Linked DNA regions of Homo sapiens. The protein of the gene in region 1 interacts with the protein of each later gene in a pairwise test. Each region holds a gene or a part of one and is shown on either strand. Other genes may lie near its edges. The genes, in order: DNALI1, THAP3, E2F8 and IFI35.

Region 1 (7,300 bases):
CAGCAACAGCTAACTGCCCCCTTCCCCTTCCCAGCTGAAGGGGGCCAGCCCCTCCACACCTGTGGGTATTTCTCCTCAGGCAGGAGGAGAGACTAAGAAAAGAAATAAGACACAGACAAAGTATAGAGAAAGAAAGGTGGGCCCAGGGGACCGGCACTCAGCATACGGAGGACCCGCACCGGCACTGGTCTCTGAGTTTCCTCAGTATTTATTGATTACTATTTTCACTATCTCAGCAAGAGGAATGTGGCAGGAGAGCAGGGTGATAGTGGGGAGAAGATCAGCAAGAAAACACGTGAGCAAAGGAATCTGTGTCACGAATAAGTTCAAGGGAAGGTACTATGCCTGGATGTGCACGTAGGCCGGATTTATGCTTCTCTCTACCCAGACATCTCAGTGGAGTAAAGAGTAACAGAGCAGCATTGCTGCCAACATGTCTCGCCTCCCGCCACAGGGCGTTTTTTCTCCTATCTCAGAACAAACGTACAATCAGGTTTTATACTGAGACATTCAGTTCCCAGGGGCAGGCAGAAGACAGAGGCCTTTCTCTTATCTCAACGGCAAGGGGCCTTCCTCTTTTACTAATCCTCCTCAGCACAGACCCTTCACGGGTGTCAGGCTGAGGGACGGTCAGGTCTTTCCCATCCCACCAGGCCATATTTCAGGCTATCACGTGGGGAGAAACCTTGGACAATACCTGGCTTTCCAGGGCAGAGATCCCTGCGGCTTTCTGCAGTGCATTGTGCCCCTGGTTTATCGAGAATGGAGAATGGCGATGACTTTTACCAAGCATGCTGCCTGTAAACATTTTGTTAACAAGGCACATCCTGCACAGCCGTAGATCCCTTAAACCTTGATTCCATACATCACATGTTTCTGTGAGCTCAAGGTTGGGGCAAAGTTACAGATTAACGGCATCTTAGGGCAAAGCAATTGTTCAGGGTACAGGTCAAAATGGAGTTTCTTGTGTCTTTCTTTTCAACGTAGACACAGTAACAGTCTGATCTCTCCTTCTTTTCCCTACACCAGCCCCGCCTCTTCTACAAGTCCTCCAGCTGCCAACCACTATATTCTTGGCAACTTGAGTTCCTCACCCCTTAGCAGATGTTTGGAGTAAAACGATAACTTCCATCTGTTTTTTCAAAGATTTTCTATAATAAGCATGTGCTAATTTTTTAGTCAGAAAGATTAATGTTCAGTATTTACATCCATCCATCCATCCATCAATATTTGGCCCTTGGTCCAGAAAAATATTGTGATTTGTTGTTAACCCACAGACACGAGAGATTTAAGATGCACCTCCTTGAGTGCTGGTGTCAAATGGCTGTCTCCCAGCCCAGTCTCATTGGCTCTTATGGACGCCGATCTGCAAACCACCTCCAAACCCTCAGGCAGCTGCAGGGTCTAGCAGGCTTCCCTATCCGTGTGTTATTATGGTTTGCCCTCCAGGTCAGCATTTATGGGGAGATAGATGGGCAAGCTCTAGACCCTGCCATTTCCCTCAAACCAGTGCAGCCAAGGGGGCACACAGGATGTCCCAGCTGCTTTAAAACAGCTGCCATCTTTAAACAGAAAAAGTCAGGTTTTTTCGAGTAGTAACCAGTTTTTACCTAAGGCAGGAAGGGAGGGGACCCAGTGCTGTAAACAAACCAGAGCCTCTTGTCTCCTTTGCTCTGGCCAACCCAGTCTTGCTGACTGTGCTACTCACAAGTGCCAAGTTCAGAGGAGTGACTGCATGGCAAGGCTCTTTGGGCCACTGAAGGCACCCTCCCTGAGGCCCTTCTCTGAGGCCTTGCACTTTGTCTCCAAGCGAGAACACCCTAATGTCCTTCCCAAGAGGAAGGGTGTTTGCAGTAGACATACTGCAAGCCCCCTCCCCACGCCCTGTCTGATCTCATGGTGTGTGTGCATTGGAAGATGAGTTGATCCGGGAGGTCACCATCAACTGTGCGGAGAGGGGGCTGCTGCTGCTGCGAGTCCGGGACGAGATCCGCATGACCATCGCTGCCTACCAGACCCTGTACGAGAGCAGCGTGGCGTTTGGCATGAGGAAGGCACTGCAGGCTGAGCAGGGGAAGTCAGACATGGAGAGGAAAGTGAGTGGGGTTTACCGTGACCCTTGGTCCCATCTCTTCTGTAAACCTCAGGGCCACATGCTTATCATTCCAGCACTACATTCTGACCTCCTAAGGTGCTCTGCTGACAGTCACGACACCTGGACTTGCATCACCTCAGTGAGGGACCCCTGGTTGAGTATGATGGCCAGCCTGGTGGTCTTGGCAGAGTTGTTTCCGCTGTAGACGCTCCATGCCAGGCACTGACCTCCCACTGGGTGGCAGTATATACCCTGGCAATGTCATGTCCCATGTCCCTTCCACCCAGGCTCACACCATTCCATTCACCTGGCGACATCCCAGGATGACTGGGCATTCTCTCCTCAGATCGCAGAATTGGAGACGGAAAAGAGAGACCTGGAGAGGCAAGTGAACGAGCAGAAGGCAAAATGTGAAGCCACTGAGAAGCGGGAGAGCGAGAGGCGGCAGGTGGAGGAGAAGAAGCACAATGAGGAGATTCAGTTCCTGAAGCGAACAAATCAGCAGCTGAAGGTAATCAACGCGCAGGGTGGGGTGGAGGTGCCCCCTGCCCTGCGACCCAGCCCCACAGGCCAGGCATTCGGTTCCTTTTCCATGGCTTTTAAATGTTTGTCCACATGCACTGCCAAAGGATAAAGGAAGCTGACTTTGGTGGTGGGAGAAGGGGAGGGCTCCAGAGGGGGTCTCTACTCTCAACTCCAAATCTCTGAGGCGCCTCAGCCTGGCTCTCCAGTGGAGGATTCTTCTCCCTGGAAAAAAGTTGCCCATCCTCAAGGAAGAGGTGGATATGGCAAAAAGTGGAACTCCATTCCCCTGGAAGCTGGTATGTTGGAGCCTTTCTGGAGGGGGCTGGGCTCCAGGTGGCTTGCGTGGTAGTGCCATCCCATGGCTGTCTCCTCTGAGGCCCTGTTTCAGGGCATAACCAGGGAAGAAGTCAAAGGGCAGCAGGGCCCTTTGAGAGGAAGAACCATTTCAAATCAGAAACCTTCCCCAGAAATGTGGTCGGGGAACCCAGGCACAGGTGCTCTTCCTCGAAGTCCGATGCCAGCAGTGGTCTTTTATCCAGCTGAGGTGATAGGAGGGAGGGGGCTGGTGGACAAAGCTGGGCAGGAGGCCATGCTACAGGCACTGCAACTCCCAGCTGTTTGGTCCAAAGGTCTCAAAAGGTAGGCCCTAGATCAACATCGTCCTCACCTGGCAAAGCAAGACAAATTATTGGGCCCACCCCAGATCTACCAAATCAGAAAATTCGGGGTTGGGGTCCAGCAATGTGCTTTAACAAGGTCTCAGGTGATTCTAATGTTTGCAGAAGTTTGAGCATCACTGTTCTGGAAAGATGGCCTACTGACATTTAGTGGCCTTCTCCCATGGCCCTGGCCAAAGGACCCTGGATGGATCTCCCTCTCCTCCCTAGGCTCAGATAGAAACCTTACAATCTTGACATTGCAGGCTTGTTTGGTCTACACACCAGCAGGACTGGCCATTTGCGATAAAGAAGGCTTTCTGTTAACCACTACTGGAACTTTTCTTGTTGCACAAAGAAAAGCAAGAAACTTTCACAGCCAGAGATGAATCTGTTTCCTTAGCAGCCTCTGAGGCTGCTTTCCTTAACTGCCATATTCCTTTTTCATAAGCCTGAGTTCCTCAGTTCTTCCTGGATTAGCAACAAGAGCAAACCAAATACCTTAGCATGTTTCTAACATTTAAAAGCAATCTTGTAATCTCCAGGGTGAAAGATTCTTTAGAAGTTGGCATTTTTAAATTTTTTTTCTTTTGAGACGGAGTTTTGCTCTTGTTGCCCAGGCTGGAGTGCAATGGCACCATCTCAACTCATTGCAACCTCTACCTCCCGGGTTGAAGTGATTCTCTTGCCTCAGCCTCCTGAGTAGCTGGGATTACAGGCATGTGCCAGCACGCCCGGCAAATTTCTGTATTTTGAATAGAGATGGGGTTTCACCATGTTGGCCAGGCTGGTCATGAACTCCTGACCTCACATGATCTGCCCACCTTGGCCTCCCAAAGTGCTGGAATTACAGGCTTGTAATACAGGAAGTGAGCTATTTTTATTGGCTCAAAACTGCATTGCAAATAAAGCAGCTTTGCTGTCCCCAGGATAGACCTACCTAAAGATCTGTCCAGTATTATTTTATTGGCTACCAGAGGAACATAGTAAATAACTCCCAAGTGTCTTAAGCTTTACATAAAGAGGGACAGCTCTCGGCTGGGTGTGGTAGCTCACACCTGTAATCCCAGCACTTTGGGAGGCCGAGGCAGGTGGATCACATGAGGTCAGGAGTTTGAGACCAGCCTGGCCAACGTGGTGAAACCCATTTCTACTAAAAATACAAAAAGTAGCTGGGCGTGGTGATGTGCATCTGTAATCCAAGCTACTCAGGAGGCTGAGGCAGGAGAATCACTTGAACCCGGGAGGTAGAGGTTGCAGTGAACCGATATCACACCATCACACTCCAGCCTGGGTGACAAGAGCAAAACTCCATTCCCCACCCCCACCCCCCAACAAAGAGGGACAGCTCTGTATTCACTGGCAGCATTTCTCTAATTGTGTGCCAAGTTGTCTCAGTGGCTGAAAATTCACTGTTTCCCAAACCTCTGGTCCCAGCAGAACTCCCAGGATCCTAAACCAGAGAGCCAATATTTTTTTTTTTTTGAGACGGAGTCTCCCTCTGTCACCCAGGCTGGAGTGCAGTGGCACGATCTTGGCTCACTGCAAGCCCCGCCTCCCAGGTTCATGCTATTCTCCTGCCTCAGCCTCTGGAGTAGCTGGGACTACAGACGCCTGCCACCACGCCCAACTAATTTTTGTATTTTTAGTAGAGACGGGGTTTCACCGTGTTATCCAGGATGGTCTGGATCTCCTGACCTCACGATCCGCCCGCCTCAGCCTCCCAAAGTGCTGGGATTACAGGAATGAGCCACTGCGCCCGGCCAGAGAGCCAAATGTTTAACTTAGCAGACATATTCTGGCCTGAAACCTGAGCCATGAAAAGCCCTTACAACAATGCATTCAATATCCTTTTCAATGCTTTATATCATACCCGGAGCCATTATTGTGTTGAAACCAGGACAGCTCTGGCTTCTCCTCATATACTAAAGACTGTATGCCAAGCTAGAAACTAGCTAATCTAGAAAATATGGATTTGGGGATCAAGGGGAAAAAGAACCCTTGGAGTGACAGCATGTGGATTCTTCTTCCCAGAGATTTGATCACCTCTCAGCTATTTGTATCAGGCTGCAAGTTTCAAGTATTAATGGAGCTTGTTTTTGTTTTTCAGGCCCAACTGGAAGGCATTATTGCACCAAAGAAGTGATAATTTCCACATGATTAATTTCCAACAAGACACTTGGGAGTTATTTACTGTGTTCCTCTGGCAGCCAATAAAATCATCATAAGCCCTTTGTAATAAAAAGCTAGTTTCCTGAGTGAACAAGCCATAACCTCCCCTAAACACCACCTAGGTATTTGTTAGAAGTCACACTATTACTCCAATGTCATCAGACACCTAAGGTCTGCCAGCCAGGCTCCTGGCTGGGCAATGGAAGATGGTGTGGCCCTGTTAGTCTCCGTGTGTGGCTTACTAGCCAGCCTTGGGAACTGCCAACTCAAATTCTAAGAAAGCCACTGCTTTCTCATCATCACTCTATACCAATACTTATTTCTGGCCAAATGAATCTGCTTCTCTGCCCCTCAAACTTTTAGTTCACAATTCATCTTCTACCTTAACTTGGGCTTCTTGGGCCTCTGGCCTTCCTTACTTAATGTCTTCTTTTCCCTACTCTAATGCATTTCTAACTCACTTTGGAGCTTTGGTTTTCTAATGTATTATCCCCACTTGCCAGTCAACTGGACCCCTTCCTCCTCGGTTTCAGACTGCCTACATTAGGAAACAATGGCAGTCAAACCCATGGCTTTGGAGAAAGTAAATGTTTGCCAGAAAGGAATACTAGTCACAGTGGCCTTTGTGAGTTGTCTGCAACTCAGCTCTTCCCCCAGCACAGATCTGTTCCCCTTATCCTGCAGAAAATCAAGCCCTGACTCTGCACTCCCCGAAGTAGTGATGTTAATTAACAACTGAAGAGGTAACTAAATCTCACATGCAGGTCTAATGACTAATAATTGGAGTACGGCTGCTAGACAACTGCATTTTAGTATTTCTCTTCCATTCTCCTGGTTTTGTAGACCCAGAAGATTGAATGAGTGACATAAATCTTTAGTTCGGGGCAAGCCAGGGTGGGCTAGGGTGGTAAGCTGGAGGACTTCATCCTTCAGTTAGGCTGCACAAGTAACATTACCTAAAAGGCACTAACATGCTCAGGTTCCCCAGAAAGAGGCGTAAGAAGGGCCTCTCCTTAGCAGAGCTTCCACCTGCCATCCGTCTTGGGTTCAGTGAGCTTCAAGGCTCACAATGGAAGCACTGTCATTTCCCCAGAAAAGCTGTGTTCCCTATGCTGAACACACCATACACATTCTCATCTGGAATCTAAGGAGCAGCTTTTACCCTGATCCAGTATCCTGAGGAATTTTAAGCCTCCACTCAAATGACCTGCCTGTGTTGTCATTTCCATGGGAAAGAACTCTTTCCACGAGATCTGCTAGTTCCAGGCCTCTAAGACAGGAACGTATGTGCCATAAGTGGGTCTACTTCACAGACTCAATGAGGCAGAAATTATTGTAGTTTTCTCCTATTTCTTCTGCACCCAACTTTCTCCTTGTATTTCAAAGGCCAGGCCATGTACACTAACGTCCTTGAAATTTGCAGTTCTGTATGCTTCTATTCCAAATCATTCATTACCAATAAAAACGAAATACCACCCTTTCCATTTTATAGACCTCATCCCCTATTTCTGTCAGACAGTTATATGACAGGGTGACTGTGGAACCTCTTAGTTCATCCAAAGTCTACCTGAAGTGCTAGACTTTCAGACTCTTATCACTGAAATCCTTAAGGTTGAGGAGGCTTTATTTCCCTAGCACTGGTGAAGGGCTTCAACTGTCAAACCTCAGAACAAATGCATTAGGGCCTTAGAAATGTCAATGGGGCAGGAAGAAAACACAATTTCTAACTGCCTGTTTTTGTATAATTTAATAAAAACCTTTTAAACATTACTGCTTTTGTCTGAATTTTTTGCGTTTGTGTTTCTGTCCCTCTGAGTCATTGGTCTTCTTTTTGTTCCTGTTCCTATTTTTC
Region 2 (6,495 bases), about 31 Mb from region 1:
CTTAACCTGCCGTCCTGTAACTTAATTTTATCTCCAACATGAAACTCCTTCCTTCTCAATTTTACCATCTACAGGCAAACCTTACTGCATGGCTTTCAAAATACATCCAAGTCTGCCCTCTCATTACCACTTCCTGCCAATGCCTGGTCCCACAGCAGCCAGGGTGGACCCAGGTTCCATCTCACCTCTGTCTAGAGCCTCCAGGGACTCCCCAGCTGCTCAGGGCCCTGCGTCATGCAGTCCCCACTCCCTCTCGCTGTCTCAGCTGGACCTGCGTGAGTGGCCGTTCCTGCTGTCCCTTCTGAAGCCTGCGTCGCTTGTGCTGCCACTTCCTGCGGTCTGTGCTCAAACATCACCCCTTCAGCTGCCTCTCCTCACCACCCCAGGGCTTCCCTCTGTCTGTTCTCTGGAGCAGCTGTCATCCCCAGAAGACACCGTCCACATCTGTGTGGCTCATCACTGTGCCCCCGCTCCAGAATATCAGCTCTTGGGGGCCAGGACTGTCTCATTACCCCCCATCCCTAGCACGAAGAACAGGGCCCGGCTCCTGGTAGGCTCCTGGCAAATGTAGCATCGGAAGCAGCTCACTTGGGCTCTCTGGCCATGCTCGTGGTCTCGGGTTTCCTATTAAGAGTGCTTTAACAGCTGTGACAGAAGCTTCCAGAAATTAGATGTGATTTAATAAACCGAGAGGACTGAATGTCCACAGCTGTCCAGGGAAGTACTCTGTAGTGATGTGAAAATTCCGAATGACTCTGAGGCGCTGGGTCCAGCCTTGCTGGGCCTCACACCCCGTGCCTCTGCCCTTAGGTTTCCGTTCAGCCGCCCGGAGCTGCTGAAGGAATGGGTGCTGAACATCGGCCGGGGCAACTTCAAGCCCAAGCAGCACACGGTCATCTGCTCCGAGCACTTCCGGCCAGAGTGCTTCAGCGCCTTTGGAAACCGCAAGAACCTAAAGCACAATGCCGTGCCCACGGTGTTCGCCTTTCAGGACCCCACACAGGTAGGAGGGCACTGCACCTTCCGTCTGGTCACATCCAGCCTGCGTTGTTTACCAGCAGCTGGGGGCAGTGGGGGTGGCGGCATGTGTGGGAAAAGCCAAGGCCAAGAACTCCAGTGACAACAGCACTGTCACGCCTCTGGGGTCCACAGCCCTGTGGCCCTGCTGGCCATGACCTCGGCTTTAAGAGAAGTCATAAATTAAAGGCATTTTAAAAATGAATTATTCTATGGCTGGGTGCGGTGGCTCACGTCTGTAATCCCAGCACTTTGGGAGGCAGAGGTGGGTGGATCACCTGAGGTCAGGAATTCGATACCAGCCCAGCCAACATGTTGAAACCCCATTTCTACTAAAAATACAAAAATCAGCTGGGTGTGTTGGTGGGCACCTGTAATCCCAGCTACTTGGGAGGCTGAAGCAGGAGAATCTCTTGAACCGGGAGGCAGAGGTTGCAGTGAGCCAAGCTTGCCTTGGTGGAGGTGGGATGTGTGGGCCTGGCTCAGGAGAGGGCTCACAAAGAGTTGGATGCTGAAGCCTTGAGATCGCATGATAGGCCACAGGGGCACCCACGTGGAGTGGGCAGGCAGGGCAGTGGCGGGACAAGCCACAGGCCAGCAGCTCCCTGCATTGGTGGATTTATGGGGAGAGGAAAGGGATCCGTGAGTGGAGAGTGGAGCCGATGGGAAGAACAAAGCGGCCACGTAGCAAACACGCCCAGAGCGGCCGCCTGGGAGCCCCTGCCCCATCTGTCCTCCCCAGCACCCTTCCCAGATAGCCTCATGCAGTCTGCCTGAACCTCTTCAGGTTGGCAGTCCCTTCCTTCAGGAAGCCCTTCTGGACCCTCAAACCCCCTCTTGCCTCCGACCCCTTCCTGCCCCTCAGTCTTCCTGGCCCCTGTGGCCCCTGCTGTCCTTCCTGTTTCCCTCATTGGTTTTGTCTTCTCCCCTGGAACAGAATCTCCATGAGGGCAGGGGCTGCCTTCCCTGCTTCAGGCCCCACACCCAGGACGCTGCCTGGCACAGCCCAGGTGCTCGGGGTATGTGTCCATAGATGAACACTTTAATCACCTTCACGTATTTGTGATAACGTTTGTCCTGGAAAGATGACACTTGAGCCACTGGGAGTGGGGACGTTTGTCACTGTAGCCCTCGGTGCTTCCAGTGCCTGGTTGGTGGGGAGAAGCTGGGTACGGCCTCTGCCAGCTCTGCTTTGTGGGCCCCACCCCAGTGTGGCCCAGGGGCTGCAGGTTCTGGGTCAGTGGCACCTCGAGTGGTGAGCTGCGCTTCTGCTGCTTGCTGGCGGTCATGGGGCCAGGTGCCAGGCCCTGGGGTGACACATAGGAAGTAGATGGGTCCCTAGCTCTACAGGGACCTATTCAGGGCACTCTGACCATGATTTGAGGACATCTTTGGAGAAAGAGAAGCGCACCAAGCGGGCAGTGTGAGTTGGGCTGAGCTTCAGGTCAGTTTCATTTAGCAGCTGTTCGTTGACTGGGGCATGCAGTGGGCCGAGCAGCGGGGACAAGCATGATGCCCGAGGCCTGCCCCGAGCTCTGAGGGTTCTTGGGGTCTGCATCCACTCTGTGTGTGTCTCTTGTAGCAGGTGAGGGAGAACACAGACCCTGCCAGTGAGAGAGGAAATGCCAGCTCTTCTCAGAAAGAAAAGGTGAGTGCACCGGGCCAGGTACTTGAATGTTTAAATTATGCTGTGGGTTGAGACAGGGAGGTGGGATTTTCCCAGCAAGGCCGGCCCGCAGGGCTGTCGCCTTTCCTCATATGCCAGTTTGGATTCCCGGTTTTTCTGGAGGGAAGGCCCAAGCCTCTCAGCTTCCTTCTTTTCAATATCAAAGAATCTCAGTTGCTAGTAGGGATCGTGCCTGATTCCCTTTTTCTTTTCTTTTTTTTGAGACTGAGTCTCGCTCTGTCACCCAGTCTGGAGTGCAGTGGCATGATCTCGGCGCACTGCAACCTCTTCCAGGTTCAAGTGATTCTCTTGCCTCAGCCTCCCGAGTAGCTGGGATTACAGATGCCCGCTACCACGCCCGGCTAATTTTTGTGTTTTGAAATAGAGACGGGGTTTTACCACGTTGGCCAGGCTGGTCTCGAACTCCTGACCTCAGGTGATCCACCCACCTCTGCCTCACAAAGTGCTGGGATTATAGGTGTGAGCCACCGCGCCTGGGCCCCCACTTTTTTTTTTTTGTAGAGATAGCATCTTGCTATTTTACTCAGGCTGGTCTCAAACTACCGGGCTCAAGCCATCCTCCCACCTCAGTCTCCCAAAGTGCTGGGAGTATAGATGTGAGTCACTGCACCCAACCTTTTTCTTTGTTTTTGAGACAGGGTCTCACTCTGTTGCTCAGGCTCTGTACAGTGGTGCAGTCATGGCTCGCAGCAGCCTCAACCTCCCAGGATCAAGCCATCCTCCCACCTGAGCCTCCCAAGTGGCTGGGACCACAAGCATGTGCTACCATGCCCAGCTAATTAAAAATTTTTTTTTTTTTTTTTTTTAGAAATGGGGGTCTTGCTATCTTGCCCAGTCTGGTCTCAAACTCTTGGATTCAGGGGATTCTCCTGCCTTGGCCCCACAAAGTGCTGGAATTATAGGCGGGAGCCACCGCACCTGGCCGTGCCTGATTTCTTAAAGTTCAGTTCCAGGGCCGGGCGAGGTGGCTCACGCTTATAATCCCAGCAGTTTGGGAGGCTGAGGCGGGTGGATGTCTTGAGGCTAGGAGTTTGAGACCAGCCTGGCCAACATAGTAAAAACCCCATCTCTACTAAAAATATAAAAATTAGCCGGGCTGGGCGCAGTGGCTTGCGTCTGTATTCCCAGCACTTTGGGAGGCCGAGGCAGGCGGATCACCTGAGGTTAGGAGTTCGAAACCAGCCTGGCCAACATGGTGAAACTCCATCTCTACTAAAAATACAAAAATTCGGCTGGGCCTGGTGGCTCACACCTGTAATCCTAGCACTTTGGCAGGCTGCGGCAGGTGGATTGCCTGAGGTCAGGAGTTCGAGACCAGCCTGGCGAAACCCCGTCTCTACTAAAAATACAAAAATTTAGCTGGGCATGGTGGTGGATGCCTATAATCCCAGCTACTCTGGAGGAGAATCACTTGAACCCAGGGGGCGGAGGTTGCAGTGAGCTGAGATCGCACCACTTCACTCCAGCCTGGGTGAAAGAGTGAAACTCCATCTCAAGAAAAAAAAAAATTAGCCAGGTGTAGTGGCATGTGCCTGTAGTCCCAGCTACTCAGGAGGCTGAGGCAGAATTGGTTGAACCCGGGAGGCAGAGGTTGCAGTGAGCCGAGATCATGCCACTGCACTCCAGCCTGGGTGACAGAGTTAGATTCCGTCTCAAAAAAAAAAAAAAAAAAATTTAGCCAGGCGTGGTGGCACATGCTTGTAATTCTAGCTACTCAGGAGGCTGAGGCACGAGAATCACCTGAACCCTGGGGGTGGAGGTTGCAGTGAGCCGAGATTGCACCACTGCACTCCAGCCTAAGTGACAGAGCGAGACTGTCTCAAAAAAAAAAAAAAGTTCAGTTCCAGGGTGTGTGCTAGGGAGAAGCTGGCTGTGGAGGGGCACAGACCCTGGAGCTGGTCCCTGGCTGTTGCCACTCCCCTAGAGGGACAAGTAGCAGCTGCAGGAGGGCCCTGCATGTGCAGGGCTGTAGTGCAGACTTCACCCTGCCGTTCCCAGGTCCTCCCTGAGGCGGGGGCCGGAGAGGACAGTCCTGGGAGAAACATGGACACTGCACTTGAAGAGCTTCAGTTGCCCCCAAATGCCGAAGGCCACGTAAAACAGGTAAGACTGAGTGCAAAGGTGGTCTGTGGTTGGACACAAGATGACTTGCTCCAAACAAAATGGAAACCAGTGAGCACCCACCATGAGACCTGTGTGGCCGAGGCAGGGTGTGCAGCCTGGGTTTCAGAGCTCCCCAGTCAAATTCTCCACCATGGTGTGGGCACATCTGGATTTTGGGGGAGCAGCCCGGAGTGTCTAGCTGCCCTGGGGTTGTGCTGTGTGCGTGTCTGGTGGCCTGCTCACCATGGCCCGCCTTCCTGCTGGTGATGCAGCTCTAGGCTCTCACTCCCCTGTCCTCAGGTCTCGCCACGGAGGCCGCAAGCAACAGAGGCTGTTGGCCGGCCGACTGGCCCTGCAGGCCTGAGAAGGACCCCCAACAAGCAGCCATCTGATCACAGCTATGCCCTTTTGGACTTAGATTCCCTGAAGAAAAAACTCTTCCTCACTCTGAAGGAAAATGAAAAGCTCCGGAAGCGCTTGCAGGCCCAGAGGCTGGTGATGCGAAGGATGTCCAGCCGCCTCCGTGCTTGCAAAGGGCACCAGGGACTCCAGGCCAGACTTGGGCCAGAGCAGCAGAGCTGAGCCCCACAGGCTCCGGACGCAGAGGTGGCAGTGGCACCAGGGCCGGCAGAGCTTTGGAGCTCTGGCTGTGGACATTTTTGTCTGCTGTGGACACTGAGAAAGTTGGCCATGAGGCCTGCTTGGCCGGGGATCGAGACAGTAGCCAAGCTCCCCGGCGAGAGCCCCAATGCCGTCTGGGGGACGTTTAGAGGCGTGGCACTAGGAGTGCACATCTGTGAGCATGACAAGCTTATCCTCCCATGGTAACAGAAGTCCAGGCTGAGGCTGATTCTGGACGCTGTCCTTTCAGCACACGCAGAGCAAAGATCGTTGGAAGCCCCAGTGTGGGAGATGCTCCTCAGGGAGGAAGCCATGTGAGGGGGCTGGCTCTGTGGCGGGTGAGTGGTCCCCTCCTCCATCAGCCTGGACAGCCGCTCGGGGTTCTAAGGAGTGACTCCTGTCCCGGCCTGGTGTGAGTGGGCAGTGTAATAAAGTGTCTTTCTATACGGTGTCGCTCCCATCATCATTTTCTCTAGTGCCGTGATTCCTTCTAAGAAGACTGACTTCCGTGGCCGGGCGCAGTGGCTCATGCCTGTAATCCCAGCACTTTGAGAGGCCGAGGTGGGGAGATCACTTGAGGTCAGGAGTTCAAGACCAGCCTGGCCAACATGGTGAAATCCCATGTCTACTAAAAAAGACACAAATTAGCCAGGCGTGGTGGCACACACCTGTAGTCCCAGCTACCTGGGAGGCTGAGACAGGAGGATCAGCTGAACCCGGGAGGTGGAGGTTGCAGTGAGCCGAGATCACACCACTGCCCTCTAGTATTGTCACTGGGTGACAGAGCGAGACTCAGTCTGAAAAAAAAAACTGACTTCCTATTTTGTCTAATTTATAGCTTTAGTGAATTAAAGAAAAAAGTTCTAGCCTGATTTCCTAACTTGGGGTCTATTTATTTCTCAGGCAATGTTGTTTAATGTAGAAAATGGAACCCCAGCTTCACGTGAAGCCTTGTGGTTGAGTGAGGAGTGAAGGATGGGGAGGAGGCCTCTGGGGAAGGGGTTCCCTCCCTCCTGAAGATGAACACACAATACACGGAAGAGCGCCAGCCTCTGCTTTCAGGAAAG
Region 3 (7,460 bases), on another chromosome or scaffold:
AGTGAGCCGAGATCACACCACTGCACTCCAGCCTGGGTGACAGAACAAGACTCTGTCTCAAAAAAAAACAACAAAAAAAGAAATTAGAAGCAGTAATTGCTCAATAAATGGCAGCAACTGTTGCTGCTGCAGCTGAGTCCAGGGCTGCAAATGTCTATATGGGGCTCATCAGGATACATCAGGGCCTATCAGGAATTTCCCACAGGAGGTCACAGGAGAGTCTGAAGGGATTTCACACACAGCCCTGCTGCTGCCTGGGACTTACTCTGACCTAGTCTAGCTCCACAGTCAGCACAAGCCAGCTCCAGGCATGCCCACTTCCTGGGTCCCTTGCTTGTATCCATCCTCTTTAACCCTGCCCAGACTAGACCCAGCATGATTCATTTGTAGGCTTAGTACAAGGACCAGGAATAGCTGAGATCTAGCTGTGAGCAGCCACAATCCAACCCAGCACATAGGGATTTGTGCAGTTTTAAGCTCCAGAGAGCTGTTTCGTGGTATCTATGCCAACACGTACTGCAGATAAAGCACAAACCCAAATTGCCCCACTAGGTCAGGAAGCAGAGTTGGTGATATAAGCACCTAGGAGGTGGGGCAGCAAGACAGACAGAAAAGGTCAAGAAACCCATTAGCTAGAACTCCTTCCTTAGCCCTTCATCCTTCCCTGCTCAGCAGGGGAAGGTCTTGCCTGTCTTTTTGGTGATGATGAAAAGGGACACGCTTCAGAAATCCCAAATGTTACCTTTGAATGTAGGCGCCCCGGTGATGCCTATCTTTCCTCCTTACCTTTGATATCTTTTTTCATAATACTTTATTTAATGCTGAACGTGTTACACAACGTATCAGCCCTCCAAGTTGTGCAATCCAGAAGGGCGACAGCACAGAGTAGAAAAACTGGTCTAACTTCAGTGAGACACAGATTACACAACATGATGAACAAAAGACCAGAAACAAATACACAAATATTCCCTTGGATTATGTAACTAATAAGTGGAAAACATATTTGATGGGAAAATTAAAAAAAAAAAAAAGTTTCAAGCTTATGCCCTGATCCTTCCTTCTTGGTTATGCAGTAAACATAAAAGTTTTCAGTAGTCTTTTCCCTCCTTTACACTCATGCTGCATTTCAAATTGATACTCTACACAGTGATGAGTAGAACCTTTCTTTCTTTATTACCTTTCATTACATGAAAGTGTTGTTAAGACTTCAAAACTGTATCACTTCACTCTTAATAAAACCACTTTTCAACATATTCAATGAGTTTGACTATAATTTCACTTCCTTCAGTAAGACATGACAACTATCAGTAAGCAAGAATTACACTCTCACCTTCCTGTTTTTTTGTGTGTTTAGGGAGGGGTTGAAATGGTTAAGGGCTAGCCTGAGTTGGCACTAACATTGCTCTCACAGGAACTTTCAGAGGCAGTGGAATGGGATGTATGAACTTGGAGCAGGTAGACCTGGATTCTAATTCTGGCTCTGTAGCTAACTTGGCCATCAGTTTAACCCTTTTGTGCCTCAGTTTTCTTCTCTATAAAATGGGACACAACTATCCTATGAAGCAAGTAAGGATGAGCACGCCGCACAGTGGTGAACACAGCTTTCAGTGGAAAGCCCTGAGACGTTAAACACCCTTGGCTTCAAATCCCAGTCCTGTCCCTTACAGTTAGACCTTGGGTTTGTCACTTTAAAATGCTGCTTCCCTCTCAGAGTCATAACCCATGCTTTCACACCTGTGCTGAGTATGAAATGAGAGGCCATCTGTCAAGTGTCACCAGAGGTGGCTGCTCCCTGCATGATGTGCCTTACAGGTAACTGTCACTCAGACATCTGCAGCATGAATGGCCCTGTAGATCACAGATTTGAACGAATTAGTCACTATCTCTGAACACAGGTGCATGAGGCAGACTGCTTCTAAAGAACTTTAAAAGGGATTTATGGCCCACAGGACTCCGGGGCTGTAATAACTTCGGGTACATTAGGCATAGCTGAATCTATGCACTCTTGGGAGCGCTGACCATTCAGGGGGTTGGGGGAGATGACAATCTGGCCAACAGCTAGTGGCTAAAGCAGAAGCACCAACTCCCCACTTTTTGTTGATACATTTAGAACCCAGTCTTGCTCCAAAAAAGGGGTACCTGGGCTTAGTAAGAACCAGCCGCTCAGTGCTAGCAACGGTGGAACCCTATATAGTGACCTCTGCTTTATTTCAAATCTGCGAGCCACAGGCAGTGGCCCCTCTGCACAGTACCTGAAAGGCCTGCTTTCAGGTCGAAGCGCCTTCTTGAGCAAGACCTGCACCTCAGCTGGCGACGAAAGGGGGACAGGGACACGACGGCGCCAACATTCCAGGGCGGCCACACCGCAAGCCTGCGGTCGCGTTCCGCGGGGAGATGAGCCTTCGCTCGCCACGGAGACCCCTGGCCCTATGGCCGGCAGCTGCTGCGCTGCGACCCCAGCCTCAATATCATAGCATCCCCGCCCTCATCGCGTTTCGCAGAAAATAAAAATGCCTCGCCCTGCTAGTCAGCAATGGGAGAGTCACTGATCCCCAAGTTAGCGGTGGGAGTGGGGAAGTGTGGCCCCGGGCCCTGCTGGAGCCTAAAGACACGCGATTACAGAGGAGGACGAGCCAAACCGAGTCCAGATCGAGAGACCGGCGCCCAGATCTCGGCGCGGTTGGGCAACACTCAGCACCAGTCCGCAGAAAAGTCTAAGGCAGAGGAGAGCAAAGGGAGCCAACGCGGGCGCAAATGATCCAGGTGCAGCCGAGGCAGCGCCGCCGCCCCGGGCCTCGGTGTCCCGTTCTGCAAAGTGAGGACGAAGGATCGAAGTGTCTCCCCGACCCTGCTAGGGCTCTACAGGGAACCAGGCTAAAGCTGCCTGAGGCTCGGAGACCGGAAAAAGAGGGAAAGACAACAGGGAAGAGAAAGGGAGGAGTGGGTGGGAGACCCTGAGGAAAGACGGCGAGGACAGGGTTGGAGGGTTTTCCGCCTTCCTCCTCTTCCTCCTACACCTGAGTTCTCACCGCTGGGCCAAGGCCCAGAGCCCACGGAGCTTAGGCACCAGTAGCCAAGCTTCTCCCTCCTCGCGCCAGTTTCTGCGAGGCACGGGGCAGACGGTGGGCAGCACAATCATGCATGCCAGGGGTGCAAGGGGGAGAGGTCCGGCTGGAGTCCGAGGGCAGGTGAGCCGGCCTGGGGCTGGGCAGGGGTGAGATAGCCCCAAGCGGGGAATCGCAGGGCGCCTGCGGCCCAGCCCGCGAGCCCCGGACGGGCCAAATTTTATTCCCCAACTTTGAGCAAGGGGAGGGGGTGTATGCAAAAAAAAAAAAAAAGGAAAAAAAAGTTGCTGAACTTTTCCCCCAACTCTGCCGTAGAGGCGGGAGTGGAGGGCGGTGCCTGCACCGATTCGCCGGCGGCTACGGTCGGGAGGCTCGGATTGGCGCTCGGGGGCCGGGGCCGGGGCGAGCGGGCGTGGGGGAGGGGAGCGGCCCTCCCCGCCCGCGGTATCGGCTCGCGCCGGGAGCGGGTTAATTTCAAATCGGGGGCTTGGCTGCTCCTGGACGGTCACGCTCCCTCTGCCCGCCAGCCGGCCCGCCAGTCCCGGTCCCGGCGTCTCTCTCCGGCACCCACCTCGGCGCTGCGGAAAGACTGACTGCCAGGTACGCGGGCTCCCGGGCCTGAGAGGGGCAGCGGTGCTGACGAGTCCCGGCTCAGCCCCCGCCGGCTCCCGCCGTGAGGTGGACTGACAGGTCAGCGGGACGCAGAGGGGCGCGGCGCCCGGGCGACACGGCACCGGGAGAGGGCTCGGGAGGGTGGCGGCGGCGGCGGCGGCGGCCGTTTCCCGCCTCCCGCTTCGCCGGGGGCCGTGAGGGAGGAGCTGAGCTCCCGCGCAGAGGGGCGGGGGCGAACGAGGGGGAGGGGCGGGGTTGCCGTGGTTCCGGGCGCGGGTTTGCCCGCGCTCAGGCCCCGCGCAGCTAAGGGGAGGCGCCGGCCACGGTCCGACTTTCCGCGCCAAATTTTTAAATCGAAGGCGGAAGGTCCGGCCCCGCCCCTGGCGCCGTCGGCCAATCGCAGGCCCGCTTCCGGCCCTCTGATTGGTCGGGAATTGTTGTCCTGGAAACCACGATGATGCTGTCCGGGAACTGTCGGGACTGCGGCGGGCGGACAGGGCCTGGGGGAGGGGCCTTTGGCCGAAAGTTGGGGGAAGTGCACTGAGCGAGTGGCGGCCGGGGGACAGTACCTGCTTGCCTTATTGGGCAAATACAGCCTTCCAAGGTGGAGTCTAACGCCGTGGTGTGAACTGGCCACCCGAACAGGGAGTAAATAGTGCTTTGTATCTTTAAGGAAGCCCTTTTTTAAATTTAAAAAAAAAGTCTTAATTATAAGACTCTTTAAATGCCCAACTGCATACTTGGAGCTTTGGGACTGAATTTGGAACTTTCCTGTCAAGCGACCTCCCACGACTTTACTGCTGAGCCTGTGCACGTGTGTGTAAGGGGAGAAATCCAGGCATCTAGATGCAGACTTGTACCCAGTTACTTGGGGTCGCGTGCGCTCAGCTGGGACCTGGGCTCGTGCGCTTAGTCCGGAGCCCTGATCTGCGAACAGGTGGGTGCTTCCTAAAGTATTCGCTGGGGTCCGGAGAATGGCTCGCCTTTTCTACAGATGGGAGAGGGCTGTCACTAGAAATTCCGTGGGTTGCTTGAAGTCTTAGGACCGCCGATCCGTTTGCTGAAGGAATTTACTGGCATTTGTTGGCGTTCTCCGCTCAGTGGGGCGATCTCTGGTCGAGAATAAAATGTAAATCTAGTTTGTCATTTTTCGTTAGGCTTTGTTTCCGTAGCCTCTTGTCCGTGAAGGAATTTTCAACAGATCTTTTGGTTCTTGTTTTTCTCTAACTTTTTCTATTTCCTTTTTTCTTTAAGGATATTAAAACTTTTAGTACAATTGATTGGACTACTTGAACCATCGGGATTTGGGGAGGAACTCCAGATTTTTCATTTTTAAACTCTAAATGTATGAGGAATTTACAGAATGGAGAACGAAAAGGTACTTTATAACTTCAGTATTCATCATTGCAATTTTAAATTCAGTATCATCCTGATTTAACTCCATAATTTTTCCCTATCCAATGTGTTTTCTTAATGCCACAACCTTGGTTAGCCTCTGTAAAGACCTGGAAAAAATGAACCTTATCTTATAGTTTCAAAAATATATAGTTTAAAATATATACTAATTTAATTAATATAGTTTAAAAAATGAAAATTATCTTAAAAAGAAATTCAGTCTCCAATCATGTCAAATGCCCTTTCTGAATTCCAGTTGTTCAAGAATCCTCAGAAATGTTGTAATGAAACTAACAAATTTTATTATTCTTAAAAATACCTTTTCTCTCTTTATGTCTGAGACAGCTACCAAATCATTAAAAACTAGAAAGAGTGTAAAGGGGCAAACCTACCCCTCTTCAAAAATTCGTTAGTTTCATTACAACATTTCTGAGGATTCTTGAACAACTTGGAATTCAGAAAGGGCATTTGACATGTTTGGAGACTGAATTTCTTTTTAAGATAATTTTTTACCAAATTGGCAGCTTATTTATGGGGTCTGCAAAATGCTCTGTTTAGGGGGCAAACATTTTGTAAAATTACAAAAGAATTGTCTGTGGGGGGTGTCCAACTACTAATAGGTTTAAAAAAGTGAACTTACATGCATATTTCCTAATAGTTTTAGATGTTAGTCAAATAAGAGAATTACTATTGCTTCTGATAATCTGAGGCAAAGAAAAAGCCTATTGTCAGATCAGTACATCTCAGATGCACACACTGGCAAGGAGCTCCTGTTGGGTCCACCATACTGACTTCCATGTAAGAAGAGCACCATACTTGGAGTGAAAATATCTGTGTTCCACTCCTACGTGACCTCTCTCAGCCTGCATCTTCTCTTCTGCGAGCTAAGAATGCAGGATTCCATGAACATACAAACGGAAATGCACTTGATAAACCCAAGATGTCACAACATGTCCCATTTGTCCATGTTCTTAAAGTTATTTGGTCTGCCTATTATTTTACTTATTGCTGTTCCAAGCATTTTCTTTAAAATAGATAAAGATGGGAGTAGTGTGTGAAGTCCCTGGTGTCCAAAACTGGAAGGAACATAGTCTCCATTAGCCTTATTTATGAACTGCTGTTAATTTACCCTTTTGTCTCAGTGGCTATCCTGCTTCTGCCAGGATCTAGCTTTGTGGTCTTAGGTAGCTGTTAGGTTGATGCAAACATAATTGCTGTTTTTGCCATTACTTTCAGTAGCAAAAGCCACAATTACTTTTGCACCAACCTAATCATTTTACTTCTCTGGGCCCCATTTTCTCTATCTGTAAAATGAGGGAGTGGATGTTCAAAGAGCAGACTTTTCTGGTCAGAAATCCTGCTGTTGGACACTCTAGATTTCCCTGATAAATCTGACCATATGCTATCCCTCACTCTTGTCTCCTTGTCTCTCTGACTCTTCAGTGGTATTTTATTTAGCACCCACTGCATGCAGCCATTATGCTAGGTGGATAAGAATTTCTGCCCTGTAGGCCTTTACTTATTACAGTGCCATGAGTAAACAAAAGTCATTTCTAGAAGTTTGATCATTTAACATTGTCAGTCCAATTAGGGGAAGCTGAGTGAAGGGCATTTGGGAACTCTATACTGTCTTTGCTTCTCTTCTCTAAATCTAAAACTATTTCAAAATACAATTAAAATTATAAGTCCTAACTAAAGTTGTTTTTTCAGTGGTTGAAACATAAGGTGAAAACATTTATGGCTTATTGCAAAATTAAAAATGGGAAATGTAATTATTAGAATTGACAATACACATCACATGACCATTAGAATACAGTTATTAATTTCCTCAACTCTACAATCTCATTAGACATTTTTTCCTTGGCATGATTCTATTCGTTATGCAATTTCTAGAATCCAAGCTGTCTGATAAATCCTGTTTTACCATGGATTTAATTATTTACATTTTTTAAACCAGGAAAATCTCTTTTGTGAGCCACATAAAAGGGGACTAATGAAAACACCTCTGAAAGAATCCACCACAGCAAATATCGTGTTGGCAGAGATCCAGCCTGACTTTGGCCCTTTAACCACACCTACCAAGCCCAAGGAAGGCTCTCAGGGAGAGCCGTGGACACCGACAGCCAACCTGAAAATGCTCATCAGTGCTGTGAGCCCTGAGATCCGCAACAGAGATCAGAAAAGGGGTTTGTTTGACAACAGAAGTGGATTACCTGAGGCCAAAGACTGTATACACGTAGGTTTTCAGAGGACTGGTTGGAGGCTGGGGAATTTGTTGGGGGGAGGGGGGAGGTTGTAGCTATTAGAGAAGTGCCAGCAATTTAAAGCATCACCACCCGAAGGCTGTTATTAACTTCCTTCGGAGCACCAGAAAGGTTTGGACCCCAA
Region 4 (8,168 bases), on another chromosome or scaffold:
TAATAAAAGGGCAGAGAGAGCTGTTTCTTGGGTGCTGGGATGTGGTGGGGTTGAGGCAGCTAGTGTTTGGGCTGTCATGAGAGTGACTGCATTGGCAGAACTTGAACAATAAGGAAATGATTTCAAGTAGAAAGTTAGCTAACTGTCATGATGAAAGTCAAGAAGGCCTAATTTGGCCGGGCACAGTGGCTCAGGCTTGTAATCCCAGCACTTTGGGAGGCCGAGGCAAGCGGATCACGAGATCAGGAGATCGAGACCATCCTGGCTAACACAGTGAAACCCCGTCTCTACTGAAAGTACAAAAAATTAGCCAGGCATGGTGGCAGGCGCCTGTAGTAGTCCCAGCTACTCGCAAGGCTGAGGCAGGAGAAGGGCGTGAACCTAGGAGGCGGAGGTTGCAGTGAGCCGAGATTGCGCCACTGCACTCCAGCCTGGGCAACAGCGAGACTGTGTCTCAAAAAGTGGGGGAGGGCCTCATTTGATGATTCTTAGCTAGAAAAATAAAGTAGTTGTGGGAAATTGAGAATGAAACATTGAATTTTACATTTTATTGGCTTGAATCCAATAAATGTTAAAAGTGAATTTTCAGGCCGGATGCGGTGACTCACGCCTATAATCCCAGCATTTTGGGAGGCCAAGGCGGGCGGATCACGAGGTCAGGAGATCAAGACCGTCCTGGCTAACACTGTGAAACCCCGTCTCTACTAAAAAAATACAAAAAATTAGCCAGGCCTGATGGCGGGCACCTGTAGTCCCAGCTACTCGGGAGGCTGAGGCAGGAGAATGGCGTGAACCCGGGAGGCGGAACTTGCAATGAGCTGAGATCACACCACTGCAGTCCAGCCTGGACGAAAGATTCAGACTCCGTCTCAAAAAAAAAAAAGTGTGAATTTTCAGATAATGTCATCGGGACATGGCTTTTGATGGTTGCTTCTAAGGAGTCAGACCCTGATTCCCTAGTGTCCCACAAGGATTTGGGCTGTATAGGGGCCCCGGCAGTATGTGGGCTAATCCTGCCTCTCCACCTTTGTCCCCAGGTACTCTGTGGATATCCCCTTGGACAAAACTGTCGTCAATAAGGATGTCTTCAGAGATCCTGCTCTTAAACGCAAGGCCCGACGGGAGGCCAAGGTCAAGTTTGAAGAGAGGTAAGTAGGCTTTGGTAGTGAATGGTGGAGTATGGTTTCACTATTTCCATTCCTTTCCTCATTGGTGTCCTCTTTTTTTCCCTTCTAGATACAAGACAGGCAAGAACAAGTGGTTCTTCCAGAAACTGCGGTTTTAGATGCTTTGTTTTGATCATTAAAAATTATAAAGAAAAAAAGCCTGTGTCTGCATGCTGTATGTATTACCAGACTGTGAAAAGGAGAACATTATTGAATAGGAAACACTGGGTGGGCTGGGCACGGTGGCTCACGCCTGTAATCCCAGTACTTTGGGAGGCCAAGGCGAGCGGATCACCAGGTCAAGAGATGGCCAACATGGTGAAACCTTGTCTCTCCTAAAAAATACTAAGAATTATCTGGGCCTGGTGGTGCACGCCTGTAGTCCCAGCTACTCGGGAGGTTGAGGCAGGAGAATTGCTTGAACCCGGGAGGCGGAAGTTGCAGGGAGGGCTGAGATAGCACCACTGCACTGCAGTCTGACAACAGCAAGACTCCATCTCAAAAAAAAAAAAAAAAAAAGACGCTGGGTGATGGATGAGGGGCTGGGAAAATGTTAAATCTGCCTTAATGAGATTTATGCTGCCTCTGTCCTTAGCCTGATAATCCCTGTGAAGAATTGTGTAGCCTCCCTGGCTTCTACCCATTACATGCCAGGAGAACCTCTGCCACACACACTCTGCCCCTCCTTGTGACAACCAAAGGCCCCTGAGTGGTGGGGATCAGGTATTTTTGATTGAGAACCACTAACCTGAAATTCTCAAACCTTAGCACAGATAGAGGTCACCTGGATGGTTTGTTAAACCACGGATTGCTGAAATCCTGCCCTCAGACTGATCCAGTAGGTCTGAGTTTCTAGCAGGTTTTCAGGTGACACTGGTACTGGTGTAGGTGAGATGGGGACCACCCTGGAGACCTGCTCCTGGTGGTAACGACAGATGCCTTTGGTGAATCCCTGAGCCTAGAGCAGCTGTTTAATAGGACAAGGGAGTGCTCCTCAAATGGCCTGGCTGGCAGAGACTTGAAAGAAAGTGATCAAAGGAGCTTTGGGGCATTGGGTTGTGCCACTACTGTGTAGTGCAGGAGAGACATTTGGTTCTTAGGATCTGGCATTTTATCTCTCAATGGACTGTAACTAGTCATGTTTCATGAATGAAATAGGTGCTCCATCTGAATGGTTCTGTCGCTAGAGGGAACTAAGATTCAAACAGGCCAGTTTGCCAAGTCTGCTAGGTACCACACTTGCACTTGGGAACCAGAGGGGGCGGGGTGGCGGGAAGGGGCCAAAAGTAGGATTGGTGAGTAACTGGAAAAAACTTTGGGCTAGGTTACTAGGAAACTTTTTTTTTTTTTTTTTGAGACAGAGGCTTGCTCTGTTGCCCAGGCTGGAGTGCAGTGGCACGATCTCGGCTCACTGCAAGCTCCGCCTCCCGGGTTCACGCCATTCTCCTGCCTCAGCCTCCCGAGTAGCTGGGACTACAGGCGCCTGCCACCATGCCCGGCTAATATTTTTGTATTTCTAGTAGAGACGGGGTTTCACCGTGTTAGCCAGGATGGTCTGGATCTCCTGACCTTGTGATCGTTCTACCTCAGCCTCCCAAAGTGCTGGAATACAGGCGTGAGCCACCGCGCCCAGCCACTTTTTTTTAAGATGGAGTTTTGCTCTTTCACCCACCCAGTCCGGAGCGAGGTGGCACTATCGGCTCACTGCAACTTCTGCCCCGCCCCGGGGTTCAAGCGATTCTCCTGCCTCAGCCTCCCAAGTAGCTAGGACTACAGGAGTGTGCTACCACACCCAGCTAATTTTTGTATTTTTAGAAGAGATGGGGTTTCACTATGTTGGCCAGGATGGTCTTGAACTTCTGATCTCATGATCCACCCACCTTGGCGTCCCAAAGTGCTGGGATTACAGGTGTGAGCCACTGCACCCAGCCAGGAAACTTTTTAATTGAATCTTCACACACTTAAGTATTAAGGCATCTCTATTGAGACAGACTTCTATTAAGTAGCTTGCCTACTCAGGGTCACAGAAATGGGGCTGAATTTAAAACTTTTGAGGAAAAATACAGCAAATTTTTTTCCACTCTACCTCAAGGCCCAAGTGTAAATACTGTTCCTACCAGGTTTGGATCCATGCTTTGATTCCTAGCCCTGTGACCTTGGGCAAGTTTCTAATGCTCTGTGCCTCAATTTTCTCATCTGTAAAGTGAAGAAAATAGAACCAACTTCATGGCATTGTTTTGAAGAGTTAATTCATGTAAGGCACAAGCGTGTTGGGCAGACGATAGCTCTCCTTGCTGGCCACTGTTAACAGTTTTGTGAACTTTTTTCTTTTTTTTTTTTTTGAGCCAGAGTCTCGCTCTGTCACCCAGCTGGAGTGCAGTGGCACGATCTCGGCTCACTGCAAGCTCCGCCTCCCGGGTTCAAGCGATTCCCCCGTCTCAGCCTCCCGAGTAGCTGGGACTACAGGCGCATGCCACCACGCCCGGCTAATTTTTGTATTTTTAGTAGAGACAGGGTTTCCCCATGTTGGTCAGGCTGGTCTCAAACTCCTGACCTCAAGTGATTCACCGCCTCAGCCTCCCAAAGTGCTGGGATTACAGGCGTGAGCCACTGCACCCAGCCTTTTTTTTTTTTTTTTTTTTTTTTTTAAGAGACAAGATTCACTGTGTTGCCCAGGCTGGCCTCGAACTCCTGGGCTCAAGCAGTCCTCCTGCCTCAACCTGCTGGAACTATAGGCACATGTTACCAGTGGGCCCAGCTGCTGGGATTGGCACTTTTTTTTTTTTTTTAGTCAGAATCTCACTCTGTTGCCCAGGCTGGAGTGCAGTGGTGTGATCCGGCCCGGCTAATTTTTTGTATTTTAGTAGGGACAGGGTTTCACCATGGTGGCCAGGATGGTCTCGTGATCCACCCGCCTGGACCTCCCAAAGTGCTGGGATTACAAGGCATGAGCCACTGCGCCTGGCAGTTTTGTGAACTTGAACTGTGGACTTTATCTGTCCTGATTGTGTTTCTCATTCATTCAGCAATTATTATTTTTTGAGATGGAGTTTCGCTCTTGTCACTCAGGCTGGAGTGCAACAGCGCGATCTTGGCTCAATGCAACCTCTGCCTCCCAGGTTCCAGCTATTCTCCTGCCTCGGCCTCCCAAGTAGCTGGGATTACAGGAATACACCACCACACCCGGATAATTTTTGTATTTTTTTAGTAAAGACGGGGTTTCACCACGTTGGCCAGGCTGGTGTCTAACTTGGGATCTCAGGTGATCTGCCCACCTGGGCCTCCCAAAGTGCTGGGATTACAGGTGTGAGCCACCGCACCCGGCAGTTTTGTGAACTTGAACTATGGGCGTTATCTGTCCTGACTGTGTTTCTCATTCATTCAGCAATTATTGTTTTATTTATTTTTTGAGATGGAGTTTCACTCTTGTCACCCAGGCTGGAGTGCAATGGCACCATCTCAGCTCAATGCAACCTCTGCCTCCGGGTTCCAGCTATTCTCCTGCCTCGGCCTCCCAAGTAGCTGGGATTACAGGAATGCACCTCCACGCCCGGCTAATTTTTGTATTTTTTTAGTAAAGGTGGGGTTTCACCATGTTGGCCAGGCTGGTCTCTAACTCCTGACCTCAGGTGATCTGCCCGCCTGGGCCTCCCAGAATGCTGGGATTACAGGTGTGAGCCGCCGCACCCAGCTCATTCAGCAATTATTTTATCAATGTTCAATGTGCCCAGCATTATTCTAGGCTCTAGGGAAATAATCCATTGACAAAGCAGGGTCTACCAATGGGCTTGTCGGAGATTGCTGGGAATGGTTGATGGGGGCCAGTTTGCAGTTGGGGTGAGGTGGCTTTCCTTGAGGCAGCCTGGCTGAGTGAAGTCGACTTTGCTGACCAAGAAGGCTCCTCCCAGGGGTGGGGAAGCCTCGGCAGGGGGCGGCATGTGAGCGCCAGAAGGCAGGGATTTCACGGAAATGAAAGTGGAAGCAAACAGCCTGCGAGCAGAGCCTCCTGAGGTGTATTTCGGGTCTTGCTGGGGCTGAGAGAGACCACAGCCCTTTGGGGGGTACAAACAAGAGTTCAGTTGCTGTGAATTCTGCCACTGTGCCCAGCTCTGAAGCCTCAGCTCTTGCCAAACAGACCCGAGACCCATGTCAGCCCCACTGGATGCCGTAAGTGAGGAGGAGGGAGTTGGGAAGTGGGGAAACAGGAGTAATCCTCTTGGCTAGGAACCTGCAGATATCTCAGGGCCTGGCAGCCAAGCCTCACCCTGCCCATCTCAGACCTGCTGAAGGGCTGGGGAGAAACACAGGGCTGGGGTTGCCTCTGCAAGAGTTGGTTCCCTAACCTATTGCCTCAGACAGGAGGAGCTCATTAAATCCTGTGTGTGTACACTTCTCTGGAGAGAGAATCTGTAGTTTCCATCAGATACTCAGCGGGTTCTGTGACCCAAATAACAATTGTTCTAGGCCGGGCGTGGTGTCTCACGCCTGTCATCCTAGCACTTTGGGAGGCCTTGGCAATACAGTGAAAATCCGTCTCTACTAAAATACAAAAAATTAGCTGTGTGTGGTGGTGTGCGCCTGTAATCCCAGCTACTTGGGAGGCTGAGACAGGAGAATCACTTGAACCTGGGAGGCGGAGGTTGCAGTGAGCCGAGATTGCATCACTGCACTCCAGCCTGGGTGACACAGCGAGACTCTGTCTAAAAAAAAAAAAAAAAAAATTAAACTAAAGGAATTAGGCTGGGTGTGTTGGCTCACACCTGTAATCCCAGCCAGCACTTTGGGAGGCTGAGGCGTGTGGATCACTTGAGGTTAGGAGTTCGAGACCAGCCTGGCCAACATAGCAAAACCCCATCTCTACTAAAAACACAAAAATTAGCCAGGCATGGTGGCACACACCTGTAATCCCAGCTACTAGGGAGACTGAGGCGGGAGAATTGCTTGAACCTGGGAGGCAGAGGTTGCAGTGAGCCGAGATTGTACCACTATGCTCCACTCTGGGCAACAGAGGGAGACTGTCTCTCACACACACACACACACAAAATTTATATATATATATATATATATATATACTATAAGAATTATACTTTAAGAATCACACTAGGTAATCCATAGATTAACACGGTAAAAACTTATCCCACTGCTTAGCACCTACAGAGCATTCAATATGTGTTTCTTCTTAATATTATTATTGCCAACCTTTTCAGAACCCCAGTTCCCCAAGGACAATCCCTTTTTTTTTTTTTTTTTTGAGACGGAGTCTCACTCTGTCTCCTAGGCTGGAGTACAGTGGCATGATCTCGGCTCACTGCAACCTCTGCCTCCCGGGTTCAAGCGATTCTCCTGCCTCAGCCTCCCAAGTAACTGGGAGTACAGGCACGTTCCACCATGCCTGGCTAATTTTTTGTATTTTTAGTAGAAATGGAGTTTCACCGTGTTAGCCGGGATGGTCTTGATCTTCTGACCTCGTGATCTGCCCCCCTCAAGCTCCCAAAGTGCTGGGATTACAGGTGTAAGCCACCATGCCCGGACTTTTCTTTCCTTTTTTTTTTTTTTTTTTTTTTGAGATGGAGTTTCACTCTTGTTGCCCAGGCTGAAGTGCAATAGCATGATCTTGGCTCACTGCAACCTCTGCCTTCCAGATTCAAGTGATTCTCTTGCCTCAGCATCCCAAGTAGCTGGGATTATAGGCACACATGCCACCACGCCTGGCTCATTTTTTTTTTTTTTTTTTTTTTTTGAGATGGAGTCTCGCTCTGTCACCCAGGCTGGAGTGCAGTGGCAGGATCTCGGCTCACAGCAAGCTCCGCCCCATGGGTTCATGCCATTCTCTTGCTTCAGCCTCCCAAGTAGCTGGGACTACAGGCACCCGCCACCACGCCCAGCTAGTTTTTTGTATTTTTGGTAGAGATGGGGTTGCACTGTGTTAGGCAGGATGGTCTCGAACTCCTGACCTCGTGATCCGCCTGCCTCAGCCTCCCAAAGTGCTGGGATTACAGGCGTGAGCCACCGTGCCCAGCATGGCTAATTTTTTGTAGAGACAGGGTTTCAGCATGTTGGCCAGGCTGGTCTCGAACTCCTGACCTCACATGATCTGCCTCCCTTAGCCTCCCAAAATGCTGAGATTACAGGCTTGAGCCACAGCACCCGGCTTTATATACGTTAAATTGGGCCATCTTTTTCAAATAAAAATCCAGATTTTTTGTTTTTTGGAGACAAGATCTCACTGTTTTTTCCAGGCTGCAGTGCAGTGGCTGGATCATGGCTCACTGCAGCCACCTCCACCTCTAGGGATCAATAGATCCTTCCATCTCAGCCTCCCGAGTAGCTGGGACTACAGGCATGTGCCACCATGCCTGGCTAATTTTTAAATATTTTGTAGAGGTAGAGTTTTGTCCTGTTGCCCAGGCTGGTCTCAGACTCCTGGGCTCAAGCGATCTGCCTCCCTTGGCCTCCCAAAGTGCTGGGATTACAGGCATGTGCCACAACAACCTGCCCAGATTTTTTATTTCTATTAAAAATGGGAAGATTAGGGGGCCTGGGTCCGTGGCTCCTGCCTGTAATCCCAGCACTTTGTGAGGCTGAGTTGGGCAGATCACTTCAGGTGGGAAGTTTGAGACCAGCCTGGCCAACATGGTGAAACCCCATCTCTACTAAAAATAAAAAATTAGAGCCGGGCACGGTGGCTCACTCCTGTAATCCCAGCACTTTGGGAGGCCGAGGTGGGTGGATCACGAGGTCAAGAGATTGAGACCATCCTGGCCAACATGGTGAAACCCCATCTCTACTAAAAATACAAAAATTAGCTGGGCATGGTGGTGCGTGCCTGTAGTCCCAGCTACTCGGGAGGCTGAGGCAGGAGAATCGCTTGAACCCGGGAGTCAGAGGTCGCAGTGAGCCGAGATCCTGCCACTGCATTCCAGCCTGGCGACAGAGCGAGACTCTGTCTCAAAATAAATAAATAAATAAAAAATAAAAAAAATTAGCCAGGAGTGGTGGCAG

What was found.
Region 2: the proteins of DNALI1 (region 1) and THAP3 interact in binary tests that used the Homo sapiens proteins (3 or more experiments, as listed by UniProt).
Region 3: the proteins of DNALI1 (region 1) and E2F8 interact in binary tests that used the Homo sapiens proteins (3 or more experiments, as listed by UniProt).
Region 4: the proteins of DNALI1 (region 1) and IFI35 interact in binary tests that used the Homo sapiens proteins (3 or more experiments, as listed by UniProt).

The regions. Positions count from the first base shown.
Region 1 is NC_000001.11:37,559,640-37,566,939, forward strand, and holds the end of DNALI1 (axonemal dynein light intermediate polypeptide 1), read left to right. Parts: intron 1-1,917; coding exon 1,918-2,096; intron 2,097-2,441; coding exon 2,442-2,606; intron 2,607-5,386; coding exon 5,387-5,422; 3' UTR 5,423-7,215; downstream 7,216-7,300. Other genes in the region: GNL2 (nucleolar GTP-binding protein 2), read right to left, coding at 7,216-7,300. UniProt on the Homo sapiens protein: Involved in sperm flagellum assembly.
Region 2 is NC_000001.11:6,627,689-6,634,183, forward strand, and holds the end of THAP3 (THAP domain-containing protein 3), read left to right. Parts: intron 1-810; coding exon 811-1,003; intron 1,004-1,954; coding exon of another isoform or gene 1,955-2,036; intron 2,037-2,599; coding exon 2,600-2,665; intron 2,666-4,681; coding exon of another isoform or gene 4,682-4,702; coding exon 4,703-4,807; intron 4,808-5,107; coding exon 5,108-5,389; 3' UTR 5,390-5,874; downstream 5,875-6,495. UniProt on the Homo sapiens protein: Component of a THAP1/THAP3-HCFC1-OGT complex that is required for the regulation of the transcriptional activity of RRM1.
Region 3 is NC_000011.10:19,237,702-19,245,161, reverse strand, and holds the start of E2F8 (transcription factor E2F8), read left to right. Parts: upstream 1-4,216; 5' UTR 4,217-4,614; intron 4,615-4,931; 5' UTR 4,932-5,040; coding exon 5,041-5,055; intron 5,056-7,029; coding exon 7,030-7,308; intron 7,309-7,460. UniProt on the Homo sapiens protein: Atypical E2F transcription factor that participates in various processes such as angiogenesis and polyploidization of specialized cells.
Region 4 is NC_000017.11:43,001,636-43,009,803, forward strand, and holds the start of IFI35 (interferon-induced 35 kDa protein), read left to right. Parts: upstream 1-5,148; 5' UTR 5,149-5,312; coding exon 5,313-5,333; intron 5,334-8,168. Other genes in the region: RPL27 (large ribosomal subunit protein eL27), read left to right, coding at 1,038-1,148, 1,237-1,285. UniProt on the Homo sapiens protein: Acts as a signaling pathway regulator involved in innate immune system response.